Linked DNA regions of Homo sapiens: region 2 is linked to region 1. The links come from fine-mapping of genetic effects on gene expression. Tissue or cell type: whole blood. Region 1 holds a variant in brackets; the other region holds the start of a gene. All regions are shown on one strand. Distances are between the middles of the regions. Region 1 overlaps LOC124903282 (a long non-coding RNA gene). Region 2 holds the start of ANG (angiogenin).

Region 1 (4,233 bases):
GTGTCTTTCAGCACTTGCTATAATTTGTAAGTGCCTCAATATGCCAGATGATGCTTTCTAAGCCTGCTTGGGGGAAAACAAGGGACAGGAGATGGTCGTAGGAAGGGAAAACCGGCCTGGTCCATTGGTGTAACACATCTGGAAAGTGTGCAGGCTGCCTGGTGGTTTTTGTTAATCAGCCCCGGACCTATGGGGGTCCTAACGTGCACTGCCCTATCCATCCATCAGGTAGACATGGCCGAAGATTAGTTTCACATAACTATTGAGTTCCACTGGGGACCAGCCACCAAATTTTGGGTCTGTGTCCAATCAGTGGTAAACAGGTTTGTCTAATATAGCACTAAAGAATGTTCATATTGATGTAGAGGCATCCTATCCACATTTTTAGTAACATTCGGCCAATGATTCTAAGAGTGATTCCTTTGTTCCCAACATGAAGTGGCAATTTGGGTTAAGTGACTAATAGTGGAGATCATCCAGAGGTAATCGTCCCAAATTTGATAAAAACTCACCTACCGTGTAATGGTTATTAGTAGCCAAAATCTTGGGGGCCATCTAGGAAAACTCCTTTAAGAGAGGGATTGCATACTCAGAGGTCCTTTGGATAGTCCGGTTATAATGAAGAGTTTTCCAGGATCTGGATTCTGAAGCGTTATATTAATGCCAGGCCATTTTTAAAAAATATTACCTTAAGTTACCAAGGTCCTGATTTTCCCATGAACAGTTTTTCATATACGTTTGTAAATGTATCTAATCAGTCCCCTGCAGGGGTGATACTCACTAAAGTAGCCCAGAAGTGCTAGAGATGGGTAGCAATCCACATACCCAGCAAGCATCTTAGTGTAGACTATCTGCATAATGTTATGCCCACTGTAGAAATAGACTAGTTTTAGCAGATGTCAAAAAAGTTTACTCATTATGATAAAGAATAACAGAAATTTAATCCTATAGTACAAAAAGATTTTTCTTAAGCAGTAGCTTCAGTTCTCCAGTTGGCTCACAAGTCCAACCAGGTTGATTGTCTGCTGTGTCAGGTTGGGGAGGGGCGATTTTTACCGAAATGTGATGTATGCGTGGTTTGACTCCAGCCAGCTTAACAGATGAATGAGTAGTTAATAAAACATCATAATGACCTGTCCACTTTTTGGCTGGCTGTTGTTGGTCCAGTCCTTGTTTTTACCAAGATTTTAGCGGCACTTTATCCTTGGATGAAAAGGGTGAAGGGGCTTTTTTGTAAGACACATAAAACTGGAAAGAACAAAAAGAACAAACTTGTGCAGGGTTAGTGATTTATGTCTTAGTTGTTGTACATATTGTTTAATTCTTGATTAATTTATTAAGTCCAAGGGTGGGGTCCCTGGCCAAGAACTTCAGAAGGGTCTCCCACACACAATTTCAAAAAGGCTTAATTTAAGCCCACTTCAGGGTGCTACCCCAATCCATAGCAGGGCAATAGGTAAAACCCTTTACCATTTTAAATCTGTTTCCCGATAGAGTTTTGCCAGGGGTTTTTTTTGGTTTTTTTGTTTGTTTGTTTTGTTTTGTTTTTGTTTTTGTTTTTGTTTTTTAGCATGTGGATCATCTTTTCAGTCTTTCCAGTTGATTGTGGCCTCCAACAAGAGTGTCATTTCCATTTGATCTGTAATGCTTGGCTTATCCTTTGTGTGATCTCAGAAATTAAAGAAGGATTATTGTTGCTTGGTATGGAGTAAGGAAGTCCAAATCGAGGAATGATTTCTTTTAGCAGAGCCTTAGCTACTTCTGCAGCTTTCTCAGACTTGTTCGGATAGGCTTCAATCTCTTGCTCGGGTAAGCTTCAACCTTTCCAGAAAATGTGTCTACAAACACTAGTAGGTACTTATAAATCCCAGTGTTTTTGGCATCTGGGTGAAATCAACCTGCCAGTCCTCGAATGGTCATATTCCTTTGTATTGTATCCTCCTCTGGGAAGAGTTGCATGCAGTTCTTGAATCATTTGGGGTA[T/C]ATAGATAACATGCTTGTATAATCTTTTGAATGATCTTTTGAAGGTGTGGCCCTTTGAGATATGGCTACACCAGGTGAGCCAGTCCATCTCTGCCATAGTGTGTCCCCTCATGCAGGTCTTTCAGGACTGGGTATACCAGGGCCTCAGAGAGTAATATCCCATGAGTGTTAGCTTTCCATGAGGAACAAGGGTCTGTGTTGGTCAATGTCCACTCATGTGTGCATTCTTCATTTCATTCAGTGTAGTGGAGTTTAAATTCTGACAAGTTTAAATGGAGTATTAAGGTCCCAAGTAAATATGTTTCTTGAGTGGCCTGCTTTGCAGCTTTATCAGCCACTTGATTCCCTTTGGTTATTGGGGAGTCATCCTTTTGGTGGCCTTGGCAGTGCATAATAGCAACTTGAGTTGGCAGAACAACTGCCTCTGACAAAGCTAAAATTTCCAGCAGGTGTTTAATGTCTTTATTTCTTGAGGTTAAGAATCCCCTTTCTTTCTGAATGACCCCACGGGCATACACTACCAAGAAGGCATACTTGGAGTAGGTGTAAATGTTTACCCATTTCTCTTGAGACTGTTTTAAGGCCCTGATGAGAGCAATCCATTCAGCTTTTTGTGCTGAAGTACCAGCAGCGGGGACATAGGCTTCTACTACTTTGTCTAGGGTCACTGGAGCATACCTGGCCTGGCGTTGTCCTCCTTCTGTGAAACTGCTTCAGTCAGTGTATAGCTCCCAGTCCGGAGTGGCCATCAGATGATCTGACAGATCTGGTCTGCTGGAATAGACTGCATCAAGAATTTCTAAACAATTATGCTCCAGTTCATAGTTGGACTCAGTGGCTGGGAGCAAGGTGGCAGGATTCAAGACTGTGGTGGTTTGGAGAAAACATTTCTGTTATCTAATAGGCTGGCTTGGTATTTGCCCATATGCCCCGCTATCATCCAGTAACCTCCCTTTTGTTACAATAAGGTTAACACTTGATAAGGCACAAATGCAGTAATGGGCTGTCCTAGGGTGAATTTTTCTGCTTCCTGTAAGATATCACACGTAGCTGCCACGGCCTGAAGACAAGGTGGCCATCCTCTGGTAATCTGCTCCAGTTGTTTGGGAAAGTAGGCTATGGGTTGTGGGGAATTCCCACGTAGTTGAATTAGTATTTCCTGTCCTGTGCCCTGGTTTTCATGGATATAGAGTCTAAATAGCTTTCAAGAATTGGGCAGTCCTAATGCTGGAGCTGACACTATTTTTTTTTTTTTTTTTGATGGTATCAAATGCCTGAAGGCATTCAGCCATCCAGTTTAGGGCTCCTGAATCTAATCCCTTTAGAGCCTTGTAGAGAGGTTTGACTATGAGTCCAAAATTAGGGATTCAGATTCAGCAGAAACCTGCCACACCTAAAACCCCCCACAGTGTCTTCCATTCCCAGGGGCCTTTATTGCTGCTATCACCTGTTTCTGGTTGGACATCAAGCTCTGCTTTCCTTGTTTTTAGTCAGAAGCCAAGATAGGTCACTTCTTGTTTACAAATCTGAGTTTTCTGAGGTGATATGTTACGTCCGTATTATATCAAATAATTTAAGATTAAGATAGTGTTAGATAGGCACCTCTCATAGTCTTGGCTTGCGATTAACAAGTCATCCAAGTATTTTAGCAGAACCCCATCATCTAGTTGAAAATCTCTGAAGCCCTTTGCCAATATTTTGCCAAAGATGGTGGGTGAGTTTTTAAAACCTTAAGAAAATACAGCCTAACAATATTGGAAGGTGTTTTTTGTTTCCAGGTCTTGCCACTCAAAGGTGAACAGCATCTGGTCCCTCTCTTCAATCAGGATGCAAAAAAAAAAAAAAAAAAAAAAGTATCTTTTAAGTCTAATACCGAAAACTACCCATACTGCCCTGGTTTATCAGTTAGTAAGGTGTAAAGGATGGGCATAGTTGGGTGAATGTCTTGAACAATGTCATTAATGGTTCCCAAATCTTGTACAAATCAATATTCATTTGAGTGTGGGTTTTTAACAGTCAGGATAGGGGCATTGTATGGAGATCTGTAAGGACATATTTGTCCATTTTTTAGAAACTTCTGTAATATAGGTTGTATCCCCTCTAAAGCCTCTCTTTTTAGAGGGCACTGTGTTTGGGGAATACCTTAGCCCCTTCATTTATTTCTGTGCACACAGGCTGTGTATTTTCAGCACTACCTGTGGTCCCATCTGCCCTCATGACTACTTACTTGCTCACAGATTGCTGGCAGGA
Region 2 (4,233 bases), 23 kb before region 1:
GGTACGATGTTAGTAACAGGACATGAGGCACTCTAGTAATGTGGAGATGAACTATCGTTTGGCAGAGAGGATGGAAAAAATCATTCCAGGAAAAGAGGAATGGCTTTAGCTATTGTTGAAAACAGATAATCAGGTTATAAGCAGGCAAGAGTAAGAGGTTTGTCAAGTTATTGTTGGAAGCATTGGTCACTGTGACTCAAATTAAAGTAGCTGGATAAAAAAGTGGACCAATGAAGGTCAGTGAAACCTTTCTTTAGGAGTTTTTATTGAATCTGTATTTAAGCAGATTCTCTGTAATTCTCTGTAAACAGTTATTCCCGGAAGAATGCCATGAAATACTTGGGAAAGAGGGAATGGGAACAAAGAGTGAGTGGGCACAAAGCCCAGAGTTGGTTGAAAAGCAAATGTTTAATTTTTGTCTTTGTTTGGAAATACAGGCATGTCAGCAGGACTTTGTCCCCACTGTCCTTCAATCAGTAGTGTTGCCTCTTCCTGGAGACGTGGTTCTTCTTGCCACGTGTGCTTTTCCTTCTTTACCTGTTACTTCCGTTATTGAATAAGTTCATGCTTATAGACCTAAAGTGTTAGAATAATAAAGAAATATAGAAATTATTTAGTCCATTCTTCCCATCATCTAATTTTATAATTAGTCCTAAGACAGAATGATACATATATACTCTGTATGAAGGAGGAAAGTGCTCTAACACTAGGGTCCTTGGAAACAGGACCCGTGCATCCCGTGTCTGTGTGCAGGGACATTATTGGCTTGAGGGAGAGAGAGAAAAAAATCTCCAGGAAAGGGGAATGACTTTCAAGTTAAAGCTGTCTGAACATTTAAAAAATATATGAGGTTTTTTGCAATTGGCGATTCCTTCATTTGTATTAAAATTACTGACAAAGATGTGATGTTCCTTAATCATAGAATATAATTCCTTGTTGTATTTTAAACACAAATGACTAAGTGCTTAGATGCATTCTAATGAAATAGTAATTTTTCCCCCAAACCCTACTTTTCATTTCAACAAAACTTCCTTGTGCCAAGTTTAAAAGAAAAACATAAAACTGTCTTTTTGCATTGTGGGCAGATTGTGTATCCTCCAAAGGTTGTCCAGTGAAGGCCCAGAGGCAGAGAAGGGACCTAACTATATTCAGAGGCTGCTGGTTGCCCCACCTCAGCACTACTGCAGAACTCTAAAATCAGAGGCTGCTCTGTTTGTGTGAGTCGGTGCTTGAATTGGTGCTTCAGGCCATGGGGCTGTGTGTGTGCAGGCGCATATGGGTTGTATGCTGTGGCAGGGTACCGCTTTTCGGGACTCAGAGGTGGTGTTGCTTGAGCTAAGCCTGGAAAGACAGGTCAGTTTTCTCCTTGCTTATGAAGGGTTCAAAGTCTGACTCCACCATTCATCTGCTGTTTGTTCTTGGAGTTTCCTCATGAGCAGAGCATATTTACATAATGCCTACCTCACACAGTCCTGGTGTTGGTTGAATGTAGTCATGTATGTGAGAGCTTCACAAAATGAAAGATTGCACTGAATATTATAATTATTGTGATTTCAAGTGCATTTGTTTTACTAGCAGGCAGCCTGTCTTTTCTTGACACCTTCTCAAGTGCAGCCAGACTGAATACTTGGCAGCTAGGTGGGTGACAACAGAGGATTGAGGATTTTTAAAAAGATAACACTGTCCTAGATCCAACACCACTGTGGGCAAATGCTGGGGGTCTGTGAAACAGTTGGTACCCTGCTGCTGTCTGATATTGGAAACTATGAGATCTATAAGGTGATCCTGGTGACCTTTGGCCCACTGTTTTTACGCAAGCAATGGATCTACAGCCCTGCTTTGATGATGGAGATAAGCAATTTTGCAACTACATTACAAGGATCAGAAGATTGAATGTTCAGGGTTAGTCTCTTGTGGACAGGTAAAGATGGAAGAAGGAGAAACCCAGGAAACATGGCAAGCCTGCTTCTGGGGGTTAGAAGCTGAGAAGTTGAGTGTAGGGGGAGGGGCAGTGTACTAATAGCTGTCACACAACCTTCTCTGGAAGTGCTTTCCTGGCTGTATGAAATCGATGGAATAACGTGCTTAGCATCCGTTCATGAAACCAAATGATGTGATACGATAAATAGGATGTGATATGATAAATGATAAATAGTACAGTGGAAAAGCATCCTACTGGAAGACCATATCTTACTCTGTGACATCTTCCAAGGCAGTTCTTGGAGTTGGCCCAGGGAGATCAGAGATGCTATCTTATGGATCCAGACTATTATGTGTGAATAGGGAAACCTCAGTCCTGCCATGAACAAGAGTAAGCACCACAGACAGCAGAAAAGGGCAACTTTTGGACAGAAGGCCATGTTTCTCAAACTTTGTCTTCCAGAACAAATCTCTAATCCATTCAGGTGGGTTAATATCTAACCCAATCATGCCCAGCGAAAAGGTGAATGACCCTCCTCGTTTGTTCAAGAGCAGTGTCCTTGGTTTTCATGTCCCTGCCAGGACTGGGACACTATATATTAGGAACACTATATAATCAGAACCTGGAGAGGCCTCCAGGTTCACACAACTGGAACCCATCTCCAGGAACAAACAGCTGGAACCCATCTCCCGTTGAAGGGAAACTGCCAGATTTTTGTAAGATTCTTCCTCCTGGGTAAACTATTGTTCAATTTGTTTTATATATTATTTCTAGCCATCCATCCATTTTAATGAAACCATTTTCCTCCCTTTAAAGCCTCCAGGCTCAAGCTCATGAATTAAAAAGAAAATGGATCAGATTCTAAAGTTTAAAATGAAAACAGGTTTCTTTTGGGATGGCCTATGTGTGGATAAAGAGAAATTAGTGAGACTGGGAGGAAGTGGAAGTTTAGGAGGGATTTCTAAATTGTGATAAAATCCCCAAAGGCCTGGGGGAGCCATTTGCTGAAGGCCATCGGGAGTCCTCCCCCGTCGTCCACCCCTGTTACAGGCATTACACGTGGCTTAACAAGGAAAGAAACAGTATGTTTTTAGCATTGTTTCCTTCTAACCTTCCCTGCTAATTTCTCTTCTTAGAAAAGTTTTGGATGCTCTTTCAAACAAAGTGGAACACATCCCAAGATCAAAAGAAGGCTCACTGGCAGGTTGAAGGGAAGAAGGAAGGAAAAGCAATAAAGGGATGAATATGCCTTGGGTGTTAGGCTCTTACTTTGGGGGATTTTGCCCTAGGATGTATAAAAGTGTGAAGCCACATTGATGAAAATGATAACTATAGTTACTCATCATAAACTGTCAAGTTAACTCCCTGGTGTGTAAAATTTGATGAATCTTTTGAATACTGAACATTGCCTGTGGGGAGAGGGAGAGAATAATTCTTGTGAATACTAACAGATTCATTTGATACAGAAGATAAAGTTACTCTAAAGAACAGTTGGGGCCAGGTGTGGTGGCTCACACCTGTAATCCCCGCACTTTGGGAAGCCGAGGTAGCCGGATCAACTGAGGTCAGGAGTTCGAGACCAGCCTGGCCGACATGGCGAAACCCCGTCTCTACCAAATACACAAAATTAGCCAAGCGTGGTGGTGGCCGCCTGTAATCCCAGCTACTTGGGAGGCTGAGGCAGGAGAATTGCCTGAACCTGGGAGGTGGAGGTTGCAGTGAGCCAAGATAGCACCACTGCGATCTAGCCTGGGCGATAGAACAAGACTCTGTCTCAAAAAAAAAAAAAAAACAGGCCGGGCGCGGTGGCTCACGCCTGTAATCCCAGCACTTTGGGAGGCCGAGGCGGGTGGATCATGAGGTCAGGAGATCGAGACCATCCTGGCTAACAAGGTGAAACCCCGTCTCTACTAAAAATACAAAAAATTAGCCGGGCGCGGTGGCGGGCGCCTGTAGTCCCAGCTACTCGGGAGGCTGAGGCAGGAGAATGGCGTGAACCCGGGAGGCGGAGCTTGCAGTGAGCCGAGATTGCGCCACTGCAGTCCGCAGTCCGGCCTGGGCGACAGAGCGAGACTCCGTCTCAAAAAAAAAAAAAAAAAAAAAAAAAAAGAAAAGAAAAGAAAAAAAGGACAGAGAACAGCTGGGACTAATTCCACTGACAAAAAGCTGACAGACAGTTACGTGTTTGGGTACAGAAGGATATATCTATAGGACTTTTGCCACCAGATGTGAGGCTTTGCACCCTTGGCTTAGGCAGATTCACTTTTACACCACAAACGATCTGTCTCTTACTGGTTTTCTCCCAATTCCAT

What was found. PIP is the estimated chance that this variant, and not a neighbour inherited with it, causes the effect.
Region 2: ANG starts here. The variant in region 1 is fine-mapped to the expression of ANG in whole blood (TOPMed, PIP 0.95).

Annotation. Positions count from the first base shown.
Region 1 is chr14:20,708,871-20,713,103 of GRCh38, forward strand. It overlaps LOC124903282 (a long non-coding RNA gene), which reads right to left. Exons shown (of 2, transcript XR_007064061.1): 1 at 4,211-4,233; 2 at 923-2,848. Among named protein-coding and RNA genes, the nearest start is that of EGILA, 4.0 kb to the left of the region's middle. The variant T/C (reference allele first, on the strand shown) is at 1,984.
Region 2 is chr14:20,686,219-20,690,451 of GRCh38, forward strand. ANG (angiogenin) reads left to right here and starts at 2,546. Exons shown (of 2, transcript NM_001097577.3): 1 at 2,546-2,656. The region is part of intron 1 of RNASE4 (ribonuclease A family member 4); the gene reads left to right.